7 linked regions of the Homo sapiens genome follow. The protein of the gene in region 2 purifies or fractionates together with the protein of the main gene of each other region. This does not show direct contact. Each region holds a gene or a part of one and is shown on either strand. Other genes may lie near its edges.

The links.
Region 1: the proteins of REXO4 (region 2) and ZCCHC9 purify together in Homo sapiens (co-immunoprecipitation; 2 studies listed by BioGRID and IntAct, with this or other methods). This does not show direct contact.
Region 3: the proteins of REXO4 (region 2) and PUM3 purify together in Homo sapiens (affinity purification with mass spectrometry; 2 studies listed by BioGRID and IntAct, with this or other methods). This does not show direct contact.
Region 4: the proteins of REXO4 (region 2) and KRI1 purify together in Homo sapiens (co-immunoprecipitation; 2 studies listed by BioGRID and IntAct, with this or other methods). This does not show direct contact.
Region 5: the proteins of REXO4 (region 2) and OCRL purify together in Homo sapiens (co-immunoprecipitation; one large-scale study listed by IntAct). This does not show direct contact.
Region 6: the proteins of REXO4 (region 2) and NOC3L purify together in Homo sapiens (affinity purification with mass spectrometry; 2 studies listed by BioGRID and IntAct, with this or other methods). This does not show direct contact.
Region 7: the proteins of REXO4 (region 2) and ZNF512 purify together in Homo sapiens (affinity purification with mass spectrometry; 3 studies listed by BioGRID and IntAct, with this or other methods). This does not show direct contact.

Annotation. Positions count from the first base shown.
Region 1 is NC_000005.10:81,307,629-81,312,041, forward strand, and holds part of ZCCHC9 (zinc finger CCHC domain-containing protein 9), read left to right. Parts: intron 1-932; coding exon 933-1,083; exon of another isoform or gene 1,084-1,317; coding exon 1,318-1,410; exon of another isoform or gene 1,411-3,346; coding exon of another isoform or gene 3,347-3,398; intron 3,399-3,582; coding exon 3,583-3,651; intron 3,652-4,413. Other genes in the region: ACOT12 (acetyl-coenzyme A thioesterase), read right to left, coding at 3,347-3,398. UniProt on the Homo sapiens protein: May down-regulate transcription mediated by NF-kappa-B and the serum response element.
Region 2 is NC_000009.12:133,407,677-133,412,089, reverse strand, and holds part of REXO4 (RNA exonuclease 4), read left to right. Parts: intron 1-1,016; coding exon 1,017-1,105; intron 1,106-3,247; coding exon 3,248-3,322; intron 3,323-4,208; coding exon 4,209-4,283; intron 4,284-4,413.
Region 3 is NC_000009.12:2,826,408-2,830,820, forward strand, and holds part of PUM3 (pumilio homolog 3), read right to left. Parts: intron 3,542-4,413; coding exon 3,367-3,541; intron 2,372-3,366; coding exon 2,268-2,371; intron 745-2,267; coding exon 666-744; intron 1-665. UniProt on the Homo sapiens protein: Inhibits the poly(ADP-ribosyl)ation activity of PARP1 and the degradation of PARP1 by CASP3 following genotoxic stress. Binds to double-stranded RNA or DNA without sequence specificity. Involved in development of the eye and of primordial germ cells.
Region 4 is NC_000019.10:10,559,020-10,563,432, forward strand, and holds part of KRI1 (protein KRI1 homolog), read right to left. Parts: intron 3,819-4,413; coding exon 3,710-3,818; intron 2,827-3,709; coding exon 2,772-2,826; intron 2,698-2,771; coding exon 2,648-2,697; intron 2,247-2,647; coding exon 2,150-2,246; intron 2,062-2,149; coding exon 1,984-2,061; intron 1,430-1,983; coding exon 1,293-1,429; intron 918-1,292; coding exon 791-917; intron 690-790; coding exon 594-689; intron 511-593; coding exon 340-510; intron 1-339.
Region 5 is NC_000023.11:129,570,852-129,575,264, reverse strand, and holds part of OCRL (inositol polyphosphate 5-phosphatase OCRL), read right to left. Parts: intron 126-4,413; coding exon 15-125; intron 1-14. UniProt on the Homo sapiens protein: Catalyzes the hydrolysis of the 5-position phosphate of phosphatidylinositol 4,5-bisphosphate (PtdIns(4,5)P2) and phosphatidylinositol-3,4,5-bisphosphate (PtdIns(3,4,5)P3), with the greatest catalytic activity towards PtdIns(4,5)P2.
Region 6 is NC_000010.11:94,335,373-94,339,392, forward strand, and holds part of NOC3L (nucleolar complex protein 3 homolog), read right to left. Parts: intron 3,365-4,020; coding exon 3,236-3,364; intron 2,503-3,235; coding exon 2,405-2,502; intron 1-2,404. UniProt on the Homo sapiens protein: May be required for adipogenesis.
Region 7 is NC_000002.12:27,592,607-27,597,019, forward strand, and holds part of ZNF512 (zinc finger protein 512), read left to right. Parts: intron 1-4,413. UniProt on the Homo sapiens protein: May be involved in transcriptional regulation.

The sequences.
Region 1 (4,413 bases), on a different chromosome or scaffold from region 2:
GTGACAGCGAGATTCTGTCTCAAAAAACAAAAAAGTATTTAGGGTAAAAAACAAGGATATACTTTTTGCTATGAAATATATCTTATGGCCAGGCGTGGTGGCTCATGCCTGTAATCCCAGCACTTTGGGAGGCCGAGGCGGGTGGATCACCTGAGGTCAGGAGTTCGAGACCAGCCTGGCCAACATGGTGAAACCCCGTCTCCACTAAAAGTACAAAAATTAGCCAGGTGGTGGTACACACCTGTAATCCCAGCTACTTGGGAGGCTGAGGCAGGAGAATCACTTGAACCCAGGAGGCAAAGTTTTCAGTGAGCTGAGATTGGGCCACTGCACTCCAGCCTGGGTGATGGAGTAAGACTCCGTCTCAAAAAAAAAAAAAAAAAAAAAAAAAAAAATCTATCTATCTATCTATCTATCTATCTATCTATCTTATGGTTTGAATCATAATTTGAATGGAAATGTCTGACCCAAATTCATTCAATTATGTGAACTTTAAAAGAAATATTAATTTTTTAAAATTTTGAGTACATAATTATATACAAATACAAATTTTGAGTGACAGTTTTTATAGCCACTGTCCATTTCCTATAGAAAATGCCATTTTTCTACTGCAGACATTCCAGTTAATAAAATGAATAGTCCATATTTGCTCAATTCATTTAAGCAATTGCCGTCTACAAAGCCACATATATAACATTGTTCCTGAGATTTATGGATTTATTGATTGAGGTTTTCAAAAGCAATGAAACCCTCTGATGGAAAGGATATCTCGTTGTTTAGGAACGTATGAAAGCTTTTTTCTACAAATATTGAGATTTCAGAAAAATAGCTTAATAAGATGAGAAATGTTTTAAATATGTTTTTGATAACAAGAATTAATAAAGTCACTGGTATAGTTTTGCAGCGTGCCAACCTACGTTTTGTTTTCCTAGGTGTGTTTCCATTGTAGAAAACCTGGTCATGGAATTGCAGATTGCCCCGCCGCCCTTGAAAATCAAGACATGGGCACTGGGATATGTTACAGGTGTGGGTCCACAGAGCACGAAATAACCAAGTGTAAGGCTAAAGTAGACCCGGCTCTTGGTATGTGTTTCTTTCAGTTTTTTGTTTTGTTCATGGGGAAAGCCAATAAATAGCACCTTGGGTATTTTTTTAACACAATTTGTTACGAGTGTGCCACTTAGTATTTGGAAATCATATGAGATTAAATTTTAAGTTATGTAAATATATTTTTTATTCAGAGTATTTTAAAATAATGTTAATTTTATGACTTGCCATATGTATTGTCAACTGAATAGGAACTGTTGATTTTTACAGGCGAATTTCCTTTTGCAAAATGTTTTGTTTGTGGAGAAATGGGGCACCTGTCTAGATCTTGTCCTGATAATCCCAAAGGACTCTATGCTGATGGTAAGTACTGTTACCCTCATATAGCAGAAATGGTGAGTCATCGTGCAGTTGTGATTTAATTTACACTCAATCACAGTTCTTGAATAAATTCTTGAATAAATTGCAAAACCTTGAGAATTACATTATTTTTATCAAGTGCTATCATATGTACTAGGCTTTTTGTGCAATTTGACTTCAGATGTTAATAAAACAAATCAGAAAAAACTAAGGTGTATATTTCCAACTGTGCTTGCTTCATCATTTGTGAGACTATGTCATACATTTCTACTTTTAGACATAACAGAAGCAGAGAGATTATATCTCAAGCTAATATGAGGTTTTTAAAATCGTATTATATATTCAGCCTCAGCCAGCATATCATTTTGGTGGAGGGGTGGGTACAGATGATTCAATATTGTAGTAATGTTTGCTTCTGAATTTTTTTTCTTAGTTATTTGTCTGGTATGGGATCATGTAGCTTTTTTCTCTTTAACTCGGGTAATTAAGGTTCACACAGTAAAGTCTATGCGGTCTAAAGCTTTAAGGCGGAGGTTGTTATCTGTTAATGTGATGGCTGGTGCCATCAGGCTCTAGACGTTTCTTGTGTCATGTCCTGGGTTTCCCTCCTGGAGAAGTCCAGTGAAAAAGCATAGCTTTTGGAGTTGGTCAGACTTGGGTTACAGCGCCAGCACTGCCACTCACTAGCTGGGGGGCTTTGGCCAACTACCAAACTCTGATCTCCGTTTCCTCACCTATAGAGTGGAGATGATAAAACTATATTTTATTGATTCTAAGATGCACAGTTTTTCAATTTTAATCTCTTGGAAATCAGAATGTATCTTACCGTTGGTGGGTCCCATATAATTGACAGCTGTTTTTCTTTCTGAGAGGTATGTGCAATAATGATACATCTTATAATCAGTGGTGTCTTAGAGTTGATGAATTATGGTATTTGCCTAAAGAATTTTTATAAGGATTAAAATGTATTATTCAAGTGCTTCTCTTTCACTATGGCATATAAAGAGGCCAGGGCCTGGAAAATGCTCAGGTGCATTTCAGTTTTGAGCTTATAAAACTGGGTAGATAACATGACTAGTGAGCAAAAATGGCTTTCACTGGTCAACCAAAGTGACTAGCTGTAAAAAAAAAAAAAAAAAAAAAAATTAATGCAGCAAGGAGAGTAGATCCCATAGATGTGAAAATTTGGCCATATTTGCCTGTGTGTGCCTTGATTTTATACCTTGTAATCTTTTGTTTACAATAAGGGGCTTTCTGCGATTTGTTTTAATTTAGAACACTTTAGTAGCAATAGAAACACTGGATACATTTTTGTATGGTACATTTGATGTATATAGAATTAGTACTTTATTTTTAAGAGGTAAAGCATTATGTTGGGGGAAAAGTAGGGTGGGTTTCCACATTTGCATTTTTATGTTAAAAATAAAGTCAAGATTTGGGGGAAAAAAAAAAGAAAATTCAGCCAGATTTGTATCTGATTAGGTCATTTTTCTAAGTCACTTAACATTTCGAGCATGATCAAGATAATGCTTGACCATTAAGCAATAGTGTTTGATCATTAAGTGAAACACTTATTTTAGAAACCACATGTGTTGTAATTCACAATCCTGGAATGTTGTTTAAAGTAGGCAGGTGGGCATTTTTATAGGGTTAGGGTGCCTGGCCAGTGGAAGGCACTGAAACAAAAATTAACTTTATTTCTTTCATAAATGCTTACCCCCATCTGATCTGTACAGTAGAACAGTAGTTTCTAATCTGTTTTTGGGCCATTGACTGTTTGAGAATCTGACATGCTATTCAGGAAAGTGCATCTGCTTACATCTTTTGTTTACAGGTCCAAGGGTTCACAGACTCTTGATTGTCTAAGCATTGTTAAGATCCAGGCTTCTGTGCAATAGCTCTTGAACAAGTGCCTTCCATCATATCTCATTTCTTTTTCCTACTTCTCAAGGCCAGGTGCAAGAAGCAGTGGGTGGGTACAATTTAGTGCTCTGTGAGGTTAAAAGGAATGGAGAATGAATTAATAGGAATAGTGGCACCTCCCTATGATCCTGGTCTAGCTACCTTTACAACTGACAGGGTTGTGAGGATCCAGTAAGATGTGAAAGTGCTTTGAGATGTTAAAAACCCCTTGCAAGTATGAGATGGTATTCAGTGGCTTTGCTCTTTCAATAGGTGGCGGTTGCAAACTTTGTGGCTCTGTGGAACATTTAAAGAAAGATTGCCCTGAAAGTCAGAATTCAGGTGAGATCTCTGGGCCTCTACTTAGAAGGGGTGAGATTAGTATTCCTCTGCGTTTTATTCTGCACTTGTTATTAATAACTCAATTGGGATACTAATGATTTTAAGACAACCTGTTTTCCTACTGTAGCAATGACTTAATCTCTGTCAGCAATAGACACACATAGTATTGAGTAACTGAATAGTTGGGGGAAAAAAGTGACCAGTAAGCCTTAGGGGACCCTGACTTTATAAGACACCTGATTCATAAGCATTTATATTTGCTAACTAATGAATTTAATATAATAGAGCCAATTCTGTTACTTACAGAAAAATATGAATTCACTGAGAAAATAAAAAATATGAAATAACTTTCAATAGCCTTAATATTGAGTGTCCTTATGTATGCTTTGCTTTGTATGTACCTAAAAGATTCAGAGTTGATTGCAGAAACTACCAAAAATATTAAAAATGTGTTATCTACACAGTATCTGGCGATTTTCTTCCTGATGAAATACCAGCCTTATTCATCAAACACTTCAGAGATGTTCACTCTACCTATGGCAGACTTTTAAGGAAGTGGAGATCATTATTACATTAGTTTGCCTGGACTAGAATGATAATCCTATGTGAAGGAAAGCAAGAAGACAGTAGGATAGCCCAGCAGTGCTTCTTATGGAAAGAGCACTTTTTTTTATTTCACGTAGTCACAACACTACGCAAATAAGTCTGCTCATTCTTACTTCCTATCCCTAACATTTAAATTTGAAAACCAAGAGTTCTTAT
Region 2 (4,413 bases):
GCTGACTTCAAGACCAGGCCAGTAGCTGGGCACGGTGGCTCATGCCTGTAGTCCCAGCTACTCAGGAGGCTGAGGAGGGAGGATTGCTTGAACCCAGGAGTTCAAGTCCAGCCTGGACAACATAGCGAGACCTCATTTCTAAAAAAAATTATTATTTTTTTTTGAGATGGAGTTTTGCTCTTGTTGCCCAGGCTGAAGTGCAATGGCACAATCTGGGCTCACTGCAACCTCCGCCTCCTGGGTTCAAGCGATTCTCCTGCCTCAGCCTCCCGAGTAGCTGGGATTACAGGCATATGCCACCACACCCGACTAATTTTGTATTTTAAGTAGAGACAGGGTTTCTCCACATTGGTCAGGCTGGTCTTGAACTCCCGAACTCAGGTGATCCGCCTGCCTCCGCCTCCCAAAGTGCTGGAATTACAGGCATGACCCACTGCACCTGGCCTTCTAAAAAATATTTTTAAAAAATTAGCTGGTCCCACTTGGCTCGGGCCACCCTTGGTCTAATCACCCCTGTTCGGGGGGTACAAGTGGGGTTGGTGGTGGGGTGGTCCCCAGAAGCAGGCAAGGCTGCCTCTGGAGCCCAGGGCCTAGGGCAACACATCTCTACCCATTTTTGTGGGGGCAGTTTTGTTTTTATTTCCATTTGGGAAATTGTCAAGTAAATCATGAGGTTGAATAGGCAGAACCACGCTGCCAGGCGGCTCTAAAAGTTTCTCAGTGCCTACACTCAACATATGCTCTCCTCCAGCCATGAGCCGACTTTGCAGACTGTGTGGAGCACTTTATTCCTCTCCTCAGAGGTGGTTCTCGCAGCCACCCCTGCCAGGGGCCCACAAGGCACTTCTCCCAGGGGGGTGGGTGGATGTGGTGGCTTCGAGTCACCCTCCGTAGTGGCATTGCAGGCCTGACCATTTGTCTTAGGTCTGACCAGGGGTAGGAGCGGGGCTGCCTCCTCACAGAATGATGGTGATGTGTGTGTTGCAAAAAACCGCTTCTTTGTGTTGATTTTCCAGGAGAAGAGCTTGAAGTTGTTCAGAAGGAAGTGGCAGAGATGCTGAAGGGCAGAATTCTAGTGGGGCACGCTCTGCATAATGACCTAAAGGTACTGGGCTCTCTCCTGGGGACTCAGCCTGCCCCTGCTCCGTGGGTGTTACACTCACGCCCTTGCTGTGTTGGGGAGTTTTAACAATGTGTGGGTTTGTGCTCTATGTTGGGAATACTTTGGTAATAATATCAGATACCGCGTGCTGAGTTCTTACTGTGTTTTAGGAGCCATGCCAGGCTCTTGTTTTGAGAGCCCCCAGCGAAACTGGGGTACCCATACCAGAGCAGCTGGCAACCCCGCCCTAATGAGAAATGAAGGTGCTGATACCCCTTTTACCTGGAGGAAGGCCTAATGTCCAGTTGTCCCATCCGTGACCAGGGTCCCTCCACAGGAAACAAGTTTATCCTGGCAGATGCCCTGTGGCCCATGTTCAGGTTACGCTTGCCTAACCATCACCCTGGCCCTGGGAGCTTGCCTTTGCCTTCTTTCTGGCGTCCCGAGGAAAATCCCGCCTGGGGCAGCCCCTGGTTCTTCAGATGGAAAGTGCAAATTCAGACACCACCACCGTGGGAAACAAGTTCAAAGACATATACAGACCCTGGGCAGGGAAGGCGTCATGGGTGGGGAGGGCAGCCTGCCATCTCCTGGTCACCCGAGGCAGGAATGAAGAGTCAGGCAGAGCGAGTACGTGTGTATTTACAGGAGAACAGGGTGGGGGTCACTTTGAGTTTATGGGCAAATGCCTGGATGTTGGTTTAAAGGACACAGTGGGAACAGCGGGGAGGCCAGTCTGCTAGATGGGAGAGACACTTAAGTTGTCACCTCTGCCCACCGGCTTGAAGCACTTGGGTGTGGTGAGGAACTTGAAGCCGTTCAGAAGGAAGTGACAGAGATGCTAATGTTCAGGCAGCAGCCTTTGCTATGGTGCTCCCGTGACGGCACTGTAGAGATCCCTTGAATCCATTGAAGATGCTGGAGGTGTTCATGCTTGTTTACAGAGGGTGAAACTGAGGTGAGAACCCCCCGGGCAGTGTCCTCACAGAAAGGTCTTCTGTGTGCTCCTGCTGTACCCCCTCAGAGACTGCTGCCGTGGGGACTCGTCCTTCCCTCCTGACTCTGACTCCATCCCTGGCACCTTGCGCAGCACATGTTCAAGTCTTTCTTGAAGATGATGCTAAGGACCAGACACAGTGGCTTATGCCTGTAATCGCAGCTTTTTGGGAGGCTGAGGCTGGAGGATTGCTTGAGGCCGGGAGTTAGAGACCAGCCTGAGTAACATAGGGGAGACCCCATCTCTATAAAAAATTTTAAAATTAGCCAGGTGTGGTGGCGTGTGCCTGTTGTCCCAGCTACTCAGGAGACTGGGGTAGGAGGATCAGTTGAGCCCAGGAGGTTAAGGCTGCAGTGAGCCATGATTACCCTATAGCACTGCAGCCCAGGTGACAGAGTGAGATCCTATCAAAAAACAAAACAAAACAAAAAATTGCATGCTAAGATTGCAAGATGAGCTGTTAAAATGTGTTATTTGCAACTTCCTGATGTGTAGAACCAACTCAAAATACAAGTATAATATAGGAATAAGTTGGTTGCTGGTTAACTGTTGACTGTTTTTCTCCTACTTCCTTGATTTCAAGATTTTGTTTTTATTGTCTCTGACTGTTGGGCATCAGCTTAAGTCAGTGCAATAAATTTCCTTCTGGAGTTGAAATTCATATCAGTGCCTTGTTTCCATGTGTGTGTGACACACTTGGATTCCCTACAAGATGTTACTTGCAGGGCAGCCGCGTTGGCTCACACCTGTAATCCCAGCACTTTGGGAGGCCGAGGCGGGTGGATCACCTGAGGTCAGGAGTTCGAGACCAGCCTGGCCAACATGGCAAAACCCTGTCTCTACTAAAAAATACAAAAATTAGCCAGGCATGGTGGCGGGCACTTGTAATCCCAGCTACTCGGGAGGCTGAGGCAGGAGAATCACTTGAAACCTGGGGTCGGAGGTTGCAGTCAGCAAAGATTGAGCCACTGCATTCCAGCCTGGGTGACAGAGCAAGACTCCGTCACACACACACACACACACACACACACACACACACACACACACACACACACAAAGATGTTACTTGCAAAAGGTGGCGGGGGGAGGGGGTTCTGCTACTACAAACCAAAAATGAAAATGATTATCATTATATTTTATTTTTCTAGGTACTATTTCTTGATCATCCAAAAAAGAAGATTCGGGACACACAGAAATATAAACCTTTCAAGAGTCAAGTAAAGGTACTTAGAATGAGTGTGACTCAAGATACTGTATTTCTGTTTTGCTGGTCACTTCATTGTTTCTGGTCACTGGTGGCTGACTTGTTGGTTAAAGGGTTTTTGTTTTTTCTTTTAACCTTTAAAACTAGAAGGAATGTTTAAAAATAGAGTTCTGCTAATTGCTGACCTTAAAAATGATTGCAACGGAGGGCAAGTTATTTCCACTCTAACCTCTGAAACAGGGTCACTGACTAAGGGCCTGGTACCACTGTCGTATCTGCTCTAGAGGGTGCCAAGGGCAGAGCCGTTCTTCATCCTTTTTTTTTTTTTTAGACAGGGTCTTGCTCTGTCACCCAGGCTGGAGTGCAATGGCATAATCTTGGCTCACTGTAACTGCCACCTCCCAGGCTCAGGCAATCCTTCCACCTTAGCCTCTGAAGTAGCTGGGACTGCAGGCATATGCCACCACCCCTGGCTAATTTTTTTATTTTTATTTTTTTAGAGATAGGGTCTTGCTGTGTTGCCCTGGCTATTCTCAAACTCCTGGGTTCAAGTGATCTGCCCTCGTTGGCCTCCTAAGTGCTGAGATTACAGGTGTGAACCACCATGCCTGGCCAGAGCTGTCCCTCTTGAAATAAGCAGGGAGGCCTCAAGATGGGAGATGGGGATGCTGACTCCTCCCCTGGCCCTCTCCTTTTATTGGCTGATAGGGGTGTATCACCAGCCCATCATGCTATAAATGGCAGCTGGTGGCTACCACCCTAAGTGCCATGAGCACCTCTCCACTGAGAGGCAAACTGTAGGTCGCTTGGGTGAGGTTCAGTAGCCAACCGCTCCCTGCTTGGTGGGGTGACCCTCTTTGGGCCGAGCCTGCAGAGGCCCCCACCCGCCTCTTCCCCCTTTGCAGAGTGGAAGGCCGTCTCTGAGACTACTTTCAGAGAAGATCCTTGGGCTCCAGGTCCAGCAGGCGGAGCACTGTTCAGTAAGTGTGTCCTGTGGGGTAGTTCATGGGGTTTGGGGCGGTTTCCCACCTGGAACCAGACATGAGTCACCTGACACAGACATGGGGGAGGTGGGGCTTGGGCACCTACTTATCCTACGAGGCTATTGGT
Region 3 (4,413 bases), about 130 Mb from region 2:
TTTGCATGCCAATTTTAAGAGGGTCAAAACTCCAATGAATGTATAGTCTGGCGTTATTTGTTAAGTCAGTCTCATTATTTTCATTATCCCTTGTGATTGGAAAATGAGGACAAATGGACAATGAGCTCACTGTATGATGAGGCAAGCAAAGTTCAGGGAACTAAATGATGAATTCTCATTTGTATTCCCATGACTGACTTGAAGGGCAGTGCAATTTACCTTCACTCTGTTCTTCTATGATATAAAGTCCAGGTTTTCATCGTCCACTTAGTTTTACAAACATATCCTCCTCTAACCTTTTAATGCCAAGCTAATTTTTTTTTTGTATTAGCACAGTTGAATTTAAAACTATCCGAATGCTTGAATATTCCTCCACGAGTTAGTTAATTTTCAGATTAGGTTAGCCAGCGGATACTCTCTGGATTATAATTAAGATATAAAAATTTAATATGATTAGTAAAACTAGGGTCAATTCTATTGTTTACTGGAATAAAACCTAAATGGAATTAGCAAACGTGTTCAAAGGGAGTTGAGTAAATTATCTTCCCTAAATAAGGAAGCAACTCTAAAATTTCCACAAGACAACGTACATCAAAGCAGTTTTTCAAATTTCTACACCGCTCCTCCTCCATGTTTTAGTTTAAAAACAAAAACCAAGAACTTACTGATCTGAGTTTGGGGGGTGCATAGGTAAAAAAGTCCAAGAATACTTTATGCACCAATGAGTGCTTAATCACAGCTTCCCTGAAAACAGAAAAAAAAAGCAAAAAGACACAACAGATCTGGCACTACAGTCATACAAAGACAGGTAATCTCAAAGTCCTAAAGTAATCTAAACAAGTGAAATGGTTTTACTGAATACAATTTGTCATAAAATAGACTGTATTTTTCAGAAATACTAAAACTTAAACAAAAATTTAGATGGTAAAATTGATTTAGTGCCATCTACAACCAAGACCAGAGTATAAACTTCTAGTATTTAATCGGCAAACATAAAATCAACATTTGAAATATGCTCTGCTCTATTAAATAAGGACATCTACATTTTTTCCCCCAGCACTGGACATAATGATTAGAAATCCACATGTGGATGTATTTTTTTAATAGTTGTTTTATTTCTGTTAACACCCTTCACAATCCATCTGTTTCACAAAATAATTTTAGCAGAATTAAAACTTGAATGAACCAAACATTGTCAGCAATTGCAACAACACCTACTTAATCCAAACCCCCTAGTGTGACACTTGGTGGATCCAGGTGTACAGTGGAGGCCGATGGTCAGGCATAAAAGACCTAAAGTTCACAGGTGATACCCAAGTAGACAGCAAAAACTAACACTGCCTTTATGGGCAAAGCACTGTTCTGAGTGTTTTGGAACAACCAACCCATTTAATCTTCACAAAATTCCTATGAAGTCTGTACTATTATTATCCCAATTTTACAAATATGGTAATTGAGGCACAGGGAGGTTAAGTTGCCAAAGATTGCAGTTAGTAATAGTTGGGGGAGTGGGGAACCAGGAGTCGTACCCAGGCAGTCGGGTCCCAAAAGCTATGCTCAGCCACTCCACTACTGGACAGATGCCATGAAGGGCACATGCACAGGCTTCCAAGTCTTACAATCCATTTTTTAATTTTTTTTTATTTTTTTAAAGCAAGGTCTCACTCTGTTGCCTAGGCTGGAATGCAGTGGCACAACCATGGCTCACTGCAGCCATGACCTCCTGGGCTCCAGTGAGCCTCCTGCCTCTCAGCCTCCCAAGTAGCCAAGACTATACACACATGCCATAAAGCCTGGCTAATTTTCTTATTTTTTCGTAGAGATGGGGTCTTGCTATTGCCCCAGATGGTCTTGAACTCCTGGCCTCAAGTGATTCTCCCAGCTTGGTTCCCCAAAGTGCTAGAATTATAGGCGTGAGCCACTGTACCTTGCCTACAACCAAATTTGAGTAACAGATTATATTTGTGAAACTGTTTAGTATACATGGCTTCCATGTAACATTTTATTTGGGGAAAGAATGTTTCATTGCTTAAAAAAGCTCATAAATCACGAATGCATGTTAGTTATCATTTTATAGGGTACAATATCAGAAAAAGAAATCTCCTTTTGCACCAAGAATGGTTTCAAACCAACACTTTTGCACTCTTATTTAGAATAGATTAATACTTGTAAGCAGGAAATAGCTACCTCTTCTGGGCAACAGTTATGGAAAACCTTCCTCCTTTGAATGTCATTTCTTAAGAACAAAACAAAAACAACTTTCTTACTTTTGGGCCATTGGAGTTAGAATCTGTTTCATTTCATCCATAATAAGTTCTAATTTTTCTGGCTGTACCTCTAACACTTTGTCCAGAGTTCGGTGATCTGCTGACTGCAACAAAACAAAACAATCAAACCCCTCTAAATTTAATCAATTTTTTCACTTCAGGAAAAAGAAAAGTAATTAGTCATTTTAAAATAAGTTTTAACAAATTTAAGATTTCCCATATTTACATAATGAAAGCTCTGCTGTATATCCTTGTGGAGTAACCTGATTAGCTGATTCTCAGTCTGTGTATCTATCAGTGCATTTAAAGAGCCAGGCCAACCAAGTTAACCAGCTAACAGTTACTTGCCAAGCACCTAGCTCTTGCCCAATTATGAGATCAAGTAGTCACTTCACAAATTCTTGCCACCATATGTTTTATAATTAGTTGGCTATTCCTATTAAATATAACGAACTGTTAACAAAATTAGTACAGCAACAAATTCAACCCAAGAATTGAACCTGGCTAATGGAGGCAACCCGGGAATCAATCCATATCCCTTCAGACACATGTGTGCATTTATGTTCCAAGGTTTGAAATAGATTCTTTAACCAGCTAGTCCCACTGCTAACTATTCTCAGATTCAATCCCTGTACTCTATCCAAGGTTAGGTCTCTCTGTTCCCCTTCATCTCCAGACACAATCTGAAGAAGGGCAATGCATGCACATGAAAAAACACAGGAGAAGCTAGCAACAGAGAGCCCAATACACTTCAGCCAGAGCTGGTTGGGGGTGGTCACACAACTTTGCTAACTATTGGGAGTCTTGTCCTTCAGTATGACTGTAAAAATAGAAGTATTGAAGTGCTACACACAGAGCACTCAGGAGAGGAACAAAGTTTGAATTGAAGGGGATTTAAAGCCAATGCTCTGGAGAAAGAGAAACTTGCTCACTATACCAGAAACAAAATAAAGCATGAGGGAAAATCAAGGGCATAAGATGGTCTCTTAAAGAACCAGCCACAGTAAAAATACATTCAAAAGATATATAGGGCACCGGAAGTTAAGGAAGAGCATATCGAAAAGTAAAAATACTAGAAAAAGACTTCTGGAGATGTCACCTTGTAAAGCTGAAATGTGTTCCCATAGAGCTCTTCCGTCAGCATGTTCCTCTGCTCCAAAATGGCTTTGTCATTGTATGCGTACTCCACGATGGCTGATGCTTCCGCATGCCGCAGCATCTTCCTCACGTGGCCTTTAAAACTTCTGATTATCTCTGCAATCTGTGGTTTACTTCTAAACGCAACACAATCATGGAAAAATAAATGATAGAAGGAGAAAGCTGGGTGACAATAAAACACAACTTACTTCTCCCAAGACCAACTCATCAATCTGTGTCACTCTGAGGAGTAAATGAGCTAGCATGCATTGAGAAGCTGTGGCCAGCACATAGTAAATGCTCAATAAATGTCATTTCCTATTAAACTGTTCTGCTCGAAAAAAACAGTAGGGCAGGAAAAAAGATAAAAGATTCAAGGAAATAGAAAATCATATTCTAAGATTCCTTTTGAAGATGGGACTTAATCACAAGTATTTTAACTATATCCTAAAAGAATTAAACAGCTGGAAACTACAGCTAGGAATACATTTTTGAAAATTTTGTCAACTGCATATATTACACTTTTTGTTGTTGATTATCATATTCTAGCACATTAATACACTCAAAAAGATTGGTCAAGACAAGTACTAATTCCACTTAATTTAGGAAATTCTCCCATGTTGACATTTTCTAACCCACTGACCCTCTATCAGTTTACTCACCTGTCCCTCCCCAGTCTCCACCCTCTTAATACTGGTGGCTAATTATAAGTTAATTATTCTATTTCTCTTCTTCCAGAGGTTCAAGATAAACATTCACAAATCATCCATCATGTAAAATTATTTTTACTATGCTACAATACCAGTCTACTTCAAAAGTGCTTATCTGTTGCTCACTCTGTCTTTAAAACTTTTGAATGCCAACAAATCAGAAGGTGAGGGTATACCTCCATCAAAGTCATAAATTTCAAGGAGATTTGCAGGACATTTCTCATGTATCTTTTTAGGAATGAAGGCAGTACCATAATTTTACATTAATTTCGATAATTGTATTTAAGATGATACTCTCT
Region 4 (4,413 bases), on a different chromosome or scaffold from region 2:
TTTAAAACAGAGGCTCCCTCTGTCGCCCAGGCTGGAATGCAGTGGCATGATCTCGGCTTACTGCAACCTCTGCCTCCCGGGTTCAAGCAATTCTCCTGCCTCAGCCTCTCAAGTAGCTGAGATTACAAGCATACACCACCACACCTGGCTAATTTTTGTATTTTTAGTAGAGATGAGGTTTTACCATGTTGGCCAGGCTGATCTCGAACTCCTGACCTCAGGTGATCTGCCTGCCTTAGCCTCCCAAAGTGCTGGGATTACAGGCGTGAGCCACCGTGGCCAGTGAGAGCCATGTTTGTGTGAACTCAGCGTCATGTTGGGCCGGGATGAGGGCCGCACCTGCATGAGCTGGTCGTGCTGGGCAGGGTCGAAGTCGTCTTCAAGGTCCCCCTCCTCGAGGCCCAGCATCTCGTTGCCTGTTACTTTCCGCAGCTTCTCCAGCTTGGCCAGAATCTCCTTCCTCTTCAGGTTCTTCAGCTGCTTGAGCTCTTCCTGCTTCTTTGCTTTCTCCTGCAGGCCCAGGCAGAGAGGGGGAGGGCATGGGCTTTCCTCCAGGGCTGGGGGGTCCTCCCCAGCTCACCCCCCACACTCACCCTCTTCTTTCGCTCCCGAGTCTCTTCCCTCTTCTCCTTTCTGCGCTCATCCTTACGGCGCACGGAGGACGCGATGCTGCGTGGGTAGGTCTTGACCTAGGCGCAATCAGAAAAGCCCACAAGGGCCGCAGAGATGATGTGGGGTTCCCTGGGCCTGAACCCTGGGGGCTGAGTCCTCCCCAGCCCCAGCCACACACCGATGCTGAGTCCGGCTCCTCGAAACGGAAATTGTACTTCTGTTCAAAGTCCTCCTGTTTCTTCAGAAACAGCTCCCCTTCGTCTGAGGAGTCGTCCACAGCCAGCTGGACTGGGGGACCGTGGACCCTGAGGGGCAAGATGTGGTGATGCCAGGGGGCCAGCCAAGTGAGGTCGAGCCCCCCTTTCCTGCACGCCTGGGTACGAAGCGTATGAACTCATTTAATCCTCACAAGAACCCTACAAGGTGCACGCTGCTATTGTCCTCATTTTACAGATGGGGAAACTGAGGCATGAAAGTCTTGAAGCCGAACCAGGATTTGAGGCAGTGCCACCTGGCTCCAGAGCCTATACTCTGTGGCTCTGCCTTACAGAAGACTAACTCTGCCACCATCTGTGAAAAAAATACACACATGGTGCCCTCTGCCTCCTGGCCAGTGCCGCCTGGGAATACTTCATGAAGCGCACCCAAAATCTAGGTCCTGGGGAGATGCAGTGGCTCACCCCTCCTCTTCCTCCATTTCCTCTTCATCTTCCTCCTCCTCTTCCTCCTCCTCATAGCGTTTGTTGAGGATGTAATCCCGCAGGAACCGCTCCCCTTCATCCAACTCAGGGTCGTTCCAGTATTCCTTGAGATGCGTCTGGGGGTGACAGGAGACAGGACTCTGGTCAATGGAGGACAGGGAAGGAGGGCAGGCATGCTCACCACATGGACCTCACAGCCAGCCTCTGGAGTAGGTGACATTAGCCCCATTTTGGTTTCTTATTTTTATTTCGAGACAGGGTCTTACTCTGCCATCCAGGTGACAGTACAGTCGTGTGATCATAGCTCACTGCAGACCCAACCTCCCGGGCTCACAAGATCCTCCCACCTTAGCCTCCCAAGTATTTGAGACTACAGGTGCATGCCACCATGCCTGGCTAATTTTTTCATTTTTTTGTAGAGCCATTTTGCTATGTTGCCCAGGCCAGTCTCAAACTCCTGGCCTCAAGCAATCCTCCTGCCTTGACCACCCAAAGCACTGGGATTACAGGTGTGAACCACGGCACCCAGCCTATCCCCATTTAAAGAGATGTAGGAGCTGAGGCCCAGAGATGTACATATCCCATCTTCAGAGGGTTACTTTCTGTAAATAGGTTGGATGGACGCGGAACACGCGGTCTACTCCATCAGCGACCATGCGTGAGAACTCACCAGTTCCTTCAGGGAATCTGGGTTCCGAATCTCTTTCTGTCCCTTCAGCCACTCGATGTAGTCGGCCTCCTCCTGGGCCTGGGGGAAAGCTAGCACTGAGCATCCGCAGATGCCCAGCCACCCGCCACCCTGTCCCCCAGCAGTCCAGTCAGGCCCCAGTACCCACCTTCTCCTGCCTGGTTTTGGCACGTTTCTGCAGCAAACTGGAGCCGCCCTCCCCAGCGCCGTCCTCGTCCTCACTGTCCTCCACAAATGCCCGGAAGCTGCCCACGAGAGAAAACAAGCCTCAGGACAGGCAGGCTGGCCCCTGTCTGCTGCCCCAGTATTTATTTTATTTTGTAGAGCTGGGGTCTCACTATGTTGCCCAGGCTGATCTTGAACTCCTGGGCTCAAGTGATCCTCCCTCCTCTGCCCACCAAAGCCCTGAGATTACAGGCATGAGCCACCTCACCTGGCTGGCTGCCCCAAGATTAACCCCATTTACTAAGCCCTGAGCTCTCCTCTCAACAAGCTCAGAGCAGTGCTGTGATGTTATTAACCCCGTTTAACTGATGAGGAAACTGAAGCACATAGAAAGTGACAGAGCTCAATTTGAACCCGTGCCTATCCAACCCCCGAGCCTCAACTTTCCTCCATTGGGCCATTCCCGCCCACCCAGCCTCACCTTTCCTTGAGCTGTTTCTGTTCCTCCACATAACTTTGCGACGATGTCTCCTGCAGAGAGGGCCATAGGTCTCAGGCCAGCCCCAGGCCCCTCAGCCCCCCGACCCAGCCTTCACCCCACCCACCTGGAGTCTGTGATTGGAAGTCTCCCCGTCTGAGTTCTCCTCATCAACATATTTGCTGTAAAGGAAAAGTGGGGTCTTCAGAATATATCTTCCAGGGCCCGCCTGTCCCCATGCCCATGCGGAGCAGCTATTCCAAGCAACAGCTGGCGGGGGTCATCGGAGGGCTATGGAATCACTGAGACTCCTGCTCTCAGGGCTATCTGCGATTCTGGTGAGTTTCCAGCGTTTTTTTTTTTTTTTTCTTTTCCAATCATGGGTGACAGCATTTCTTTTTTGGAGCCAGGGTCTCGCTCTATCCCTCAGGCTGGAGGGCAGTGGCATGATCTCGGAAAACTGCAACCTCCACCTCCCAGATTCAAGCGATTCTCCTGCCTCAGCCTCCCCACGTAGCTGGGACTACAGGCGCCCACCACCACATCTGGCTAATTTTTGTATTTTTAGTAGAGACGGGGTTTCACCATGTTGGCCAGGGTGGTCTCAAACTCTTGACCTCAGGTGATCTGCCCGCCTCAGCCTCCCAAGGTGCTGGTATTACAGGCATGAGCCACCATGCCCGGCCTTTTTTCTTTTTGAGACAGGGTCTTATTCTGTTGCCCAGGCTGGAGTGCAGTGGCCTGATCATAGCTCACTGCAGCCTCCATCTCCTGGCTCAATCCTCCTGCCTCAGCCTCCTGAGTAGCTGGGACTACAGGTACACATCATCATGCCCAGCTAATTTTTAATTTTTTTGTAGAGGCGGGGTATGTTGCCCAGCCTGGTCTCAAACTTCTGTCCTCAAGCGATCCTATTGCCTCAGCCTACCAAAGTGCTGGGATTATGGGCATGAGCCACCATGCCCGGCCCAGGCTGCCAGCTTTTTTCCCTCTCCTGCCCCTAAGACCCCCATAGACCTGACAGGGCTGGGAACCAGGGGGTGGGGATGTAGGCCTTCTCCATACCCTGCCTTCTCCAAGATAACCTTCCTCTCGTAGTCCTTCAGGTACATGGGCCGCACTTTCTTCTGCTTCTCCAAGGCTTCTGGGTCCTCCTCACTGTCTGATGACGATGCTGTTAACCCACCAAAGACACCTGCCATCACCCACAACCCCCTTCTTTGCCGTGGCAGAGAATCCCACAGGGCAGGGCCAGGGTTAGACAGAGGATTCAAATCCCAAATCCACCAATTCCCAGCTGTCCAAGAGTATTGTGCTTGTCACCATCTGGTGGGGTTGGGGTCATTCAGTCAGTAATTCCTGCTTTGATTATTATTATTGTTGTTATTATTTATTTACTTATTTTTTTTTGAGGTGGAGTCTCATTCTGTTGCCCAGGCTGGAGTGCAATGGCATGATCTCGGCTCACTGCAACCTCTGCCTCCCGGGTTCAAGCTGTTCTCATGTCTCAGCCTCCCAAGCAGCTGGGATTACAGGTGCCCACCACCGCGCCCGGCTAATTTTTATATTTTTAGTAGAGATGGGGTTTCTCCATGTTGGTCAGGTTGGTCTCGAACTCCTGACCTCAGGTGATTTGCCTGCATCGGCCTCCCAAAGTGCTGAGATTACAGGCGTGAGCCACCGCACCCGGCCATTATTATTATTTTTTTGAGACAGAGTCTCACTCCGTTGCCCAGTGCATGGCGTGACTTGGCTTACTGCAACCTCCG
Region 5 (4,413 bases), on a different chromosome or scaffold from region 2:
GTATTTTTGCTCACCTCCCTCCTGCTGAGTTCTAAGGAAGGAAGGAAGTCATTTTCCATTCTGTCCATGATGCGTACACTATCTTCAAAGACTTTCCGGTACCTTCGTTCATCCACAACCTTCACCTGAAAGAAAATGTATCCTCTTTTCAGTCTTATATCCTTCTAGCTCATCTCCCTTGGAGATTATCTAACAATTTAAAACTGGTCATTACAGTAACTATTTAAAATAAACTGTGGTGCAAACAACATCCTCAAACACTCTCTATATCTTGCTTCATCCACAGCTTGCACCTGAAAGAAAACAGATCCTTGCTTTAGTTTTATGTGTTCTCAACTTTTATACCTCCAAGAGTCTCTAACAATTTTTAAGGTCACTAAAGCAAACATAAATTGAACAAAGCATTATAGAAGCACACGCTTTAAGGTAAAGGTAAGATTAATTGGCTAACGTCCTGTAAAAGTTAAACCCCTACGTTAAGAAGCTTGGTAATAATAAATATTTGGGAAGAATATTTTCTTGCTTCATTGTTAAGTTATTTGGTAGTGGAAAAAATGTGATAATTGTGGTAAAAATGATTGCTTGCACTGTACAAAATGACAGTGTCAAAACACAGCAATTACTGTTTCTAACAATCATAACTTGGTGAGGTGGCAGCAAATATTATTAAAAAGCTTTTAACTCTATTAGATTCTATGTACAATACCAAGAAGTATAATATCACTGCTCAGATTACATAATAGCAGAGATATATTAATAAATGGAACCTACAGCCATTTTAGAAAATGGCTGAAACAAAATGTCCTAGACTAGAGTAAAACCATGACAACGTATAAACACATCTCCACTGATAAAAAAATTTTCCACCTGACACAGCACTTTCAGCTTCCTGATATAGCTGTGTTTTTTTAAATATTAAAACTTCATACAAACCAATGCCAAAATTAACATAACTAACAGATTTTAACTTGAGATATCGGTTTCTTTTTTAGACTAGGAAATTTCACAAAAATTCATGTCAAAAAAAATTGATACATGCAGCAAAGGTTCTAAAAAGATGTGGAAACAGATGCTGGTGAGGCTGTGGAGAAGTAGGAACGCTTTTACACTGTTGGTAGGAGTGTAAATTAGTTCAACCATTGTGCAAGACAGTGTGGCGATTCCTCAAGGATCTAGAACCAGAAATACCATTTGACCCAGCAATCCCATTACTGGGTATATACCCAAAAGAATATAAATCATTCTACTATAAAGACACATGCACACATATGTTTACTGCAGCACTACTTACAATAGCAAAGACATGGAACCAACCCAAATGCCCATTAATAATAAGACTTGATAAAGAAAATGTGGTAAATATACACCATGGAATACTATACAGCCATAAAAAGGAATGAGATCAGGCTGGGCACAGTGGCTCACACCTGTAATCCTAGCACTGCGGGAGGCCGAGGCAGGAGGATCACTAGAGGTCAGGAGTTCGAAACCACCCCAGCCAACACGGTGAAACTCTGTCTCTACTAAAAGTACAAAAAAAAAATTAGCCAGGCATGGTGGTGGGTGCCTGTAATCCCAGTCACTTGGGAGGCTGAGGCAGGAGAATCCCTTGAGCCCGGGAGGCGGAGGTTGAAGTGAGCCAAGATTGCACCACTGCACTCCAGCCTGGGCAACAGAGCAAGACTCCACCTCAAAAAATAAAAAAAGTCATGTCCTTTGCAGGGACATGGATGAAGCTGGAAGCCATCATCCTTAGCAAACTAACACAGGAACAGAAAACCAAGCACCGCATATTCTCACTTATAGGTGGGAGTTGAAGAATGAGAACACATGGACACAGGGAGGGGAACAACACACACCAGGCCACTCGGGGTAGTGGGGCGAGGGGAAGGAGAGCATTAAGGTTAAATAGCTAATGCACGTGGGGCTTAAAACCTAGATGATGGGTTGATAGGTGCAGCAAACCAACATGGCACACATACCTATGTAACAAGCCTATACGTTCTGCACTTGTATCCCACAACTTGAAGTGAAATAAAAATTTTTTAAAATGTTGAAAATAAGAACATCAAAGCTGAGTCAAGTATCTCAGACTGGGGAAGTTTTTCACATATTTGAACTGTAACTCTTAGAGAACCGAGGATCAAACAATCACTTTACCATCACCAGGGTCCATAGTATAGCATTAGTTTAAGATGAATTTTATACTTTTACAAAACTTTGCAACTTTTAATTTCCAAAAGTATTTTGCACATGTCTTTTTATTTTCACAACCTGGAAGGCTACCAAAGCAAGGAATATTTTTGTTCCGATAGTTGAGAACATTAAGATACAAAACAATCAACAAACTTGCTCACTGCTACAGTGAATACCAAAGGTGACATCTGGACTAGTTTAAGACTCTTTCCAATATACTAGATATGTGACAGAATCAACTTGAGTATGTCTTAAAAGCACAGCTGCCTGGGTCTACTAATCACAGCCTCTAGGGGTGAGGACACATGCATCCACACTTTTTTTAAAGCTCTCTAAGCAATTCTTACATCCACTGAAGTCTGAGAACCAATGCAACAGATCACAGTACCAAGTGCAGGGTTGGAACCCTATCCTAGCTCTATCTCAGCCAGCCCACAGAAAGTCTTCTGAAATTAATTGGCCACGGTGCACTTGGCTCCTTTGTTAACAGTCATTGGTGCCAATGGTGGTGAAAATATAGTGTGGTTTTTAAAGCCTCTAATCATAGCATGCCCAAGAATCCAAAACATGGGGTGATTACTCAATAAAATCAAACTTTTTCTCAGCGGGTTATCATGATCACAGCACTTAATGGCAAATCAAAGATAATGAGGAGGGGGGGAACCCCAAAGAATTTCACAACCTGACACATCCATTTTAGTAAAGGAAATTACTGACAAAATTAGGAATTTGAAAAAAAGTACAATGAGCTAGGTCTTTATGTAATAAGATGGGAGGTTCTCCAAGACACACTGCTGAGTTAAAAAAAAAAATCAAGTTGCAGACCAACACATACATATAAGACCGTTTATGATATAGAGACACACACAAATCAGTATTTTGTCTATGAGTGAACAAAAAAGCATATACAAAGGTCTAGAACTGCACTGTCCAGTACAATAGTGACTAGCCACATAGGGAATTTGAATTTAAATTACTTTAAATTAAATTAAATTAGAAGTTCAGTTCTCAGTTGCACTAGCCACACTTCAAGTACTCAATAGCCCCCTGCTGCTAGAAGCCACTGGACTGGACAGCACAGATACAGGACATTTCCATCATCACAGAAAGCTCTATTGGACAGCACTGGTCTAGAAAGATATAAACTCCTAAGGGTAGTGGCCTGGCTGGGGAATGGGGGTTTAGGCAAAGTTGGGAGTAGGAGACAGAACAGGGATTGAAGAACTTCTGCCTTATCTGTCAATTCTGCTTAAATTTCCTTTTAATTTTTTTAAAAGCACTTGTCATTGCTGTATAATTTAAAAATCATTAAAAACTCAAAAGGCATATCTTTATTAAAGATATACATAAATACACAGGAAGCCTGAAAAAAAATGTAAATATCCCACTAGAAGCTCTGCATTAATGTGTATGGAGTATTAAAAACATCCCAAGGTTGGCTGCGAGCGGTGGCTCATGCCTGTAATCTCAGCACTTTGGGAGGCTGAGGCGGGTGGACCACAAGGTCAGGAGATCGAGATCATCCTGGCTAACATGGTGAAACCCCGTCTCTACTAAAAATACAAAAAATTAGCTGGGCGGGAGGCTGAGGCAAGAGAATGGCGTGAACCCAGGAGGCGGAGCTTGCAGTGAGCCAAGATCGTGCCACTGCACTCCAACCTGGGTGACAGAGCGAGACTCTGTCTCAAAAAAAAAAAAAAAAAAACCAAAAAACAAAAAACAAAAACAAACAAAAAAATCTGAAGGTTTTGAAAAGAAATGTAAACAAAAAAGCCAGGCATACCTGATCTAACCAAAGAGGTTAGTGTTTGAGGAAAGATACCCTCTCAAAATGGATTAAGAGAATTCAAATGAAGAAAAAGGGGCAGCCTGCAAGTACAAACTAGAAATTAGATGGGCTAAAAGAAGTTATCTAAAGGTATATTTCATCAAGTTCTATAGAATTATAGAGGTATTGTGGGGTAGTAGAAAGAGCACAGAGTTGGGAGTTAAGCCAACTTAAGATTGGAATCTCAGCTCTCCTCCTAGTTGAATGCTCTTAAATAAGTTATTTCAACTTGCTGTTCTCCATCTGCTCATCTGTTAAATGGGAAATACAGTTGTCCCTTGAGATCTGTGGGGGATTGATTCTGGCATGGCCTGTGTATAATCAAATTCACGCATACTCAAGTCCCACAGTTGGCCCTCCTTATACGTGGGTTTCACATCCTGTGAATA
Region 6 (4,020 bases), on a different chromosome or scaffold from region 2:
GCTAAGGAAAACATGCCATAAAATAATCATTATGAAGAGTGACAAAGAATTGTTTTCTCCTTTTTTCCTTTTAAAAAAAAAGGCTGGTGGGGTGAAGACTGGGGACAGGTGAGAAGTGTGAGGGAAGAAAAAGTAAATGGCCATTTTATTTAATAAGGCCAAAAGTTATCTCCATCCTACTCAGAAGGAAAGGGCTCATGGAAAACTGCAGAGCTCTTGCCTCATGTAGAGGAGGCAGCAACTGACTGACTACTGTCATGTAAAATACAAGCCAATGTCACCAAACCTCCCAGTATTTCAAGAAAAGCGGGAAATGTGAATTTCAGATGAATTCTTTCAATATTTAAAAGACAGCAACTAATTCAATTTTTTTCAAACTCTTGAGGCCAGAAAAATCGGCCTGGCCCACAGGTCACCAAACTATGATCTCTGAATTACAGAAACCAATGGGCTTGCAAACGGAAAAAACCTACAGCAAAATATTAATTCTGGGTAATGAGTACATTGTAAGGTGCTATAGTTTCAATGTGTCCCCTCCAAAATTCAGATACGGAAACTTAACAGTCAATGTGATGGTATTAAGAGGCAAAAGCTTTAAAAGGTGATTAAGCCATGAATGGGATTAACCCATTTATGCCTACTAGTGTTCCATTATCAGAACACTAAGCTTGTAGGAGTTATTTATATCCTACTGCTCAAGGTCATCGCCAAGGTCTGATTTTTCACACACAAAAAAAATTTGCAACCTCTGGCATAAATGGGTTAAAGTCTTTATAGAAGAGGCTTCATGAAGTGAAGCTGTGGCACTGCTCCCATTCTGTCCTGTCTGCCATGTGAGGGCATGGGGTTCCTCCCCTCCAGAAGATGCAGCAACAAGATGCCATCTCAGAAGCAGAGAGGCGCCCTCATCAGTCAACCAAACCTACCAGCACCTTGATCTTCAACTTCCCAGCCTCCAGAATTCTGAGAAAATAAATTTCTGTTTTTTTTTTTTCAGACGGATTCGCTCTTGTCACCCAGGCTGGAGTGCAATGGCGAGATCTCGACTCACTGCAATCTCCGCCTCCCGGGTTCAAGCAATTCTCCTGCCTCAGCTTCCCAAGTAGCTGGGACTACAGGAACCCACCACCACGCCTGGCTAATTTTTGTATTTTTAGTAGAGATGGGGTTTCACCATGTTGGCCAGGCTAGTCCTGAACTCCTGACCTCAGGTGATCCACCCGCATCGGCCTCCCAAAGTGCTGGGATTACAGGCGTGAGCCACTGAGCCTGGCCCTCTGTTGTTTATAAGTTACCCAGTCTTAGGCATTTTTTATGGCACCATAAATGGACTGAGGGATTTTTTATACCATTTTCTCTCTTTCTCTGTATAACTTAAGTATTTCCTGTCTGTATTTAAAAAAAGGTAATTACTGGCTGGGCACAGTGGCTCACGCCTGTAATCCCAACACTTTAGGAGGCCAAGGTAGGTGGATTACCTGAGGTCAGGAGTTCGAGACCAGCCTGGCCAGCATGGTGAAACCCCATCTCTACAAAAATTACAAAAATTAGCTGGGCATGGTGGCGGGTGCCTGTAATCCCAGCTACTCGGGAAGCTGAGGCAGGAGAATCGCTTGAACCCGGGAGGCGGAGGTTGCAGTGAGCCGAAATTGCGCCATTGCACTCCAGCCTGGACAACAGAGTGAGACTCCATCTCAAAAAAAAAAAAAAAAAGTAATTACTATTTTTCACCTTTCTGTACTTGTGAAAATTTTGTAAGTAAACAGTTCAGGGAAAAGAAGACTCTTTTAGGAGGACCTTTTCCCCATCTGGGTGTGAGGTAGATGCTGGAAGTACCCATCCAAGCTGCTTATAGGTCAGAAGGTACTCTGCAAGGGCCAAAAAAAGAAAAAGCTGCCCTTCTGGATGGCAGTGTTCCAAAGCACCTCTTTTCTTCCCTCTCCTCATTTTTTTTTTCTCCTCATCCTGCCCTAACAGGGCCATTCAAAAAAAAAAAAAAGACCGAGCGAGCGAGAAAGCAAGGAAGCTTAATTTGGTTGACTTGTGTTTTATCTTCACATGAAGCACCTATAGCCATAGATTATTCATTGTTGAACCTGAGTGATGGGGGGCATATGGACATTCACTATGCCATTCTACTATCCTGTATGTGCGAAACTTTTCACGATTAAAAAAATGTTTTTCAAGTTGAATGACAGAAGAAGAAAAAAAATGTTTTAAGTGATCAACAAAATCATAGCATGTTTTCTTTCAGAACAATTCAGGAATATGAAGCAAGACCAATCCAGATACCCAACTGGCACTTTACATTTTGTAGTATGTTACTTTATGAAACAGTCTTCTCATAGTAAGTGGCTATCAGCTCAATTCTGTAGTTTTAGAATAAGGCAATGCTAAATATTACCTTCGACTCAACTCTGGTTTGAGTGCTCCAGAGCCTTCAGAAGGTGCTCCAGCGATCAGGTGGGCTGCAAATCTCTGCACTATGGGATGATAATGCCTCTGAAGGGAAAACGGGACAATCACATTCTGCACAGGTCAGTCCTTTACAAAAAACACTAGCCACAGCAAAGATTTTCTTAAATAAAATTACACCAAATTTTTTTTCATCACCTATGTACAGTATATGTAATTCATTAGAAGCACATACCCACAGAAAGAATATTATCTTTGCTAATAGGATTAAAACACAAATCAAGTTACCAGTGAAGTAGTTTAGTCTTGCTTTTACAATATAAATAGAAAAATCAAAAAGCAATTCCTCTTTCAGAGTGAAAAAAGTTAATTTACAACAGGTTACCTGCCACTTCTATTTTCTACAAGTCTCACTCTAATGCTGTCCATACTGTAGGATCACTGCATAGGTGAAACCATCTTGAAACAGGGCTTACTAAAGTCTCCTTGGATAAGACTCAACAGAAATGTACCTGATAACAAATCCTCTGAAGAGTGTTAGGGAAAGATTTCAATAAAGGGAAAGGTTTCAGTAAATCTTCCACAACTGCACCCTACAGAACTGACACTGTTTTCTGCTTCCTTAGAAAATGTACCTCAACAGCTTAAAGAATAGTAACAGCAAAGTAAAATGTAGCATACTAACACAGGAATTCTAAAAAAGGCAGCCCCAGAACAAAATATAATTAAGTACTCTGGCAATAACAACTATTTGAAGAAAAACTGGAAAACAATTATTCACAAACATCCCCAAAAAGAAAAAAACCAGGGCCACTCTTACCCGCAGAGCATGCAGTTCCCACAGAGCAGTGTTCTGAGCATTGCAGTACTCAGGCTCATCCAGTTCAGGAAGGAAAACTCCACTTCCCTGAGATTCACTGTCAAGCAGTAGATCTGTTTTGGGGAAAGTCTGCAAAAATGTCACATAAAAAGAATTGGTTAAATTAACATTGTTAATATAAGAGGTGTTACTGGTTTGTAGTTGTATTTGCATTTAAATTTATGGTTGTATAAGAGCTTTGCATAAAGTCTTTACACCTAGATTTAATAAAAAACAATTTAAGTTTATATAGTAAGAACAAGAGTTGCAAAAAAAAATTTTATCTTTGCTTGCTTTGAAAATTAATTTTATCTTGCAAAAGAAAAAAATATGCTTCTCACCTTGCAATCACACTTTTAGAAATCTGATAGAAATAATTACATCAGATAAATACATAAAGATATTCACTATAGCATCATTTGTAATAGCAAAAAAAGAAATAACCTATATCAAGAGAAATAGAAAGAAGCAGAAAAACCAGACTGCCTACATTTGAATATCACTTCTACCACTGACTGGCACTGCTACTCAAGCCAAGACACTTAACCTCTCTGGACCTCAGTTTTCCCACATGTACAATAGGAACAAGAATAGTAGCTACCTCAGAGTTATGAAAATTAAATTTTTGTAAGGCATTTATAACTGGAAGGCACATAGTCAGAACTATGGTGTTTGTTAAGCAAAGAATTAAATAAACCTTACATAAAGAGAGTAGTGACATTATAATGTGTTTACCATGATTAAAT
Region 7 (4,413 bases), on a different chromosome or scaffold from region 2:
GCCTGGCCTAGTTTATTTTTTATTGAGTTAAAGTATACCCATATAATTTACCATGTTTACCTTTTTTTTTTTTTTTTTTTTTTTTTTTTTTGTTTGAGACAGAGTTTCGCTCTTGTTGCCCAGGCTGGAGTGCAAATGGCGCGATCTTGGCTCACCACAACCTCTGCCTCCCAGGTGCAAGCGATTCTTCTGCTTCAGCCTACTGAGTAGCTGGGATTATAGGCATGTGCCACCATGCCCAGCTAATTTTGTATTTTTAGTAGTGACGGGGTTTCTCCATGTTGGTCAAGCTGGTCGTGAACTCCTGACCTCAGGTGATCCACCTGCCTCAGCCTCCCAAAGTGCTGGGATTACAGGCGTGAGCCACCACGCCTGGCTGATACATTTATATTCTTTTTCTTTTTTTCCTCTCTTCACTCCCTCATGTCTCCCCTCCCCTTCCTGGCTGAATAGTTTCGTTAAGATGTGTCTTGGTTGGGTACCGTGGCTCATGCCTGTAATCCCAGCAGTTTGGGAGGCTGAGGTAGGAAGATTGCTTGAGCCCAGGAGTTTGATACCAGCCTGGACAACAAAGTGAGACCCTGTCTCTACACACACACACACACACACACACACACACACACACACACACACACACACAAAAGAATGAGCTGGGTACCGTGGCACACACTTGTGGTCTCAGCTACTCAGGAGGCTGAGGTGGGAGGATTGTTTAAGCCTGGGAGGTGGAGGCTGTGCTTGAGCCACTACACTCCAGCCTGAGTGACAGAGTGAGACCTTGTCTCAAAAAAAAAAAAAAAAAAAGTGCTTTGGACCAGCCTGGGCAACATAGCAAGACCCTGTCTCTATGAAAAAACACAAAAATTTAGTGGGTATGATGGTGTGCACCTGTGGTTCCAGCTACTCGGGTATGGTGAGGTGAGAGGATCACTTGAGCCAGAGAGGTCCAAGCTGCAGTGAGCCATGTGCCACTGCACTCTGGCCTGGAGAACAGAACAAGACTGTGTTTCAAAACAAAACAAAAAGATGTATCTTGGTATGTTTTTCTTTGAGTTATCCTATTTGGTGTTTGTTGAGCTCCTTGAATCTGTAAATTTATATCTGACCAAACGTGGGGGATTTTCCACCTTTTTTTTTTCAAATGTATTTTTCTGCCTTAGTATCTTTCTTTCTTTCTTTTTTTTTTTTTCCATTTAACCCTGAGTTGACACAGCACATGTTTCAGAGAGCACAGGGTTGGGGGTAAGGTTATAGATCAACAGCATCCCAAGGCAGAAGAATTTTTCTTAGTACAGAACAAAATGGAGTCTCCTATGTCTACTTCTTTCTACACAGACACAGTAACAATCTGATCTCTCTTTCTTTTCTCCACATTTCCCCCTTTTCTTTTCGACAAAACCGCCATCATCATCATGGCCCATTCTCAATGGTCACTGTCTCTTCGGAGCTGTTGGGTACACCTGCAGAAAGGCTGTCACTTCACACTTGGAAGATTGCACAGCGGCCAGTCAGAGGTGCTCCTCACTTCCCAGACAGGGTGGCGGCCGGGCAGAGGCGCTCCTCACATCCCAGATGGGGCGGCCAGGCAGAGGCACTCCTCACCTCCCGGACAGGGCGGCCGGGCAGAGGCGCTCCTCACATCCCAGACGGGGTGGTGGCCGGGCAGAGGCACTCCTCAGTTCGCAGACGGGGTGGCAGCCGGGCAGAGGCGCTCCTCACCTCCTAAACGGGGTGGCGGCCGGGCGGAGGCGCTCCTCACCTCCCAGAAGGGGTGGCGGCCGGGCAGAGACGCTCCTCACCTCCCAGACGGGGTGGCGGCTGGGCAGAGACGCTCCTCACCTCCCAGACGGGGTGGCGGCCGGGCAGAGGTGCTCCTCACCTCCCAGACAGGGCGGCCGGGCAGAGGCGCTCCTCACTTCCCAGACAGGGCGGCCGGGCAGAGGCGCTGGTCACATCCCAGATGATGGGCGGCCAGGCAGAGACGCTCCTCACTTCCTAGACGGGGTGGCGGCCGGGCAGAGGCGCTCCTCACTTCCCAGACGGGGCGGCCGGGCAGAGGGTCTCCTCCCATCCCAGATGATGGGCAGCCAGGCAGAGACGCTCCTCACTTCCTAGATGGGGTGGCGGCCGGGCAGAGGCTGTAGTCTTAGCACTTTGGGAGGCCAAGGCAGGCGGCTGGGAGGTGGAGGTTGTAGCGAGCCGAGATCACGCCACTGCACTCCAGCCTGGGCAACATTGAGCATTGAGTGAGCAAGACTCCGTCTGCAATCCCAGCACCTCGGGAGGCGGAGGCGAGCAGATCACTCGAGGTCAGGAGCTGGAGACCAGCCTGGTCAACACGGCGAAACCCCGTCTCCACCAAAAATACAAAAACCAGTCAGGCGTGGCGGCGCGTGCCTGCAATCCCAGGCATTGGGCAGGCCCAGGCAGGAGAATCAGGGGAGCCCGAGGTAGGGAGGTTGTAGCTAGGTGAGATCACGGCAGTATGGTCCAGCCTTGGCAACAGAGGGAGACCGAAGAAGGGAGAGGGAGGAGAGCGGGGAGAGGGAGAGCGAGAGCTGCATTAGTATCTTTCGCCTCTCCCTCTGGGATTACAACTACACTTAAGTTAAAACGTTTGGTATTAGGGTTTTGTTGAATGTTTTTCAATCTTTTTTTCTCTTTGTTCTTCAGACTGGTTTTTTTTCTTTTCTTTTCTTTTTTTTTTTTTTTGAGATGGAGTCTCGCACTGTCGCCCAGGCTGGAGTGCAGTGGTGCGATCTCTGCTCACTGCAGCGGCGCGATCTCTGCTCATTGCAGCCTCCGCCTCCCAGGTTCAAGCGATTCTCCTGCCTCAGCCTGCCGAGTAGCTGAGATTACAGGCACCCACCACCAGGCCTGGCTAATTCTTTTGTATTTTTAGTAGAGACGGGGTTTCACTATGCTGATCAGGCTGGTCTCGAACTCCTGACCTTGTGATCCGCCTGCCTCGGCCTCCCAAAGTGCTGGATTACAGGCGTGAGCCACTGTGCCCGGTGGAGACTGGGTCATTTCTATTGAACGGTCTTCAAGTTCACAGACTCTTTCCTCTGTCATCTCCATTCTATTACTGAACCTATCTGATGAGTTTTTATTTCAGATGTTGTATTTTTCAGTTCTAAGATTTCATTTGGTTCTTTTTTATGGTTTCTTTTTCTGCTGATGATTCCCACCTTTTCCTTCATTTCTTGTGTGTTTTCTTTATAAGAAAGTATTTCTTTTTTGTTGACAGTATTTGATAGTCCCAAAATCTGGATCACCTTGTGGCTGGCATGTTTTGGTCATTTGTTCCTTTGAAAATTGCTCACATTTTCCTGGTTCTTTATGTGTTGCATAATTTTGGAATTTATCCTCATCATTGTGAATACTTTTTGTGTAGATTTTGGGTCCTATTATAATTCTTCTGGGGAATGTTGCCGTTTCTGTTTTAGCAGGCCACCCTGCTTCAGGTTCAGGCCAAAACTTCTGTCTTGCTTTTGGAGGCATTTGTTAAAATCTCGGTTCTGTTCTTTATGTCTTTGCTATGTTGATTTGAGCTGTCCCAAACATGAATAGCTTAGGGGCTGGTCTGAGACTTCTGCAGGTGTTTCCAATCTTATTTCAGTTCTCCAAGCTTTTGCTGCTTTGGTTTGGGTCACATTAGAGTTCAAATCTCATTTTGGTTTTCAAAGTCTTTGCTAGGCTGGTACGTATGGGTATATGCCACACATTCATGGCTAAGGTTAAGTTGTGACTTATTTGGATTCATACATTGAATTAAGAGATTCTTTTTTTTGCCTGTTTTCTCTCTAGCATTCCTCCCACCCCCAGTCCCCCAACTCTGGTCCACAGGGACCTTTTTTCCTGATTTACCTGGTAAGAAAGAAGGGAGTTTCTAGAATTAAAGCTGCCTATGCTGCTCTGCAAGTGGGGTTCATCCTCATTGCAAATTCTTACTTGAGGGAAAAAGACAGAATTGGAAAACTCACCCCATTTGGGGCACTTCTCCCAACTTTGACTCCCCTGCATAATTTACTTGTTTTTGTTTGTTTTACAGAGTCCAGTGAGCAGGAGGGGTGGGCCTTAGTGGGCTTAGCTGCCCCTCCAGAGCCAGGACTTCTGTGTATTAAATTTGTGTTATTGGACCTCATGTGTGGAGAGCCGAAACTCATTCTTCCCTATTTGTAACATACTGACATAACCAGTCTCTGTTATGTTTACTCATCCCCATTTCCATCCCCTCCCTCCTAGAGGAAACTGTATAAACAAGTGTGATGTTTGCACTTAAATATTTATGACTCCTTTAAAAAATAAGCTTTAAAATAAGCTGCTTTATGTGTGGATTTGTTTTTAGCTTGCTGAACTGACATTGTGCTAGAGATACTGTTTTGTTTCTTTTTTCATTCAACAATATAC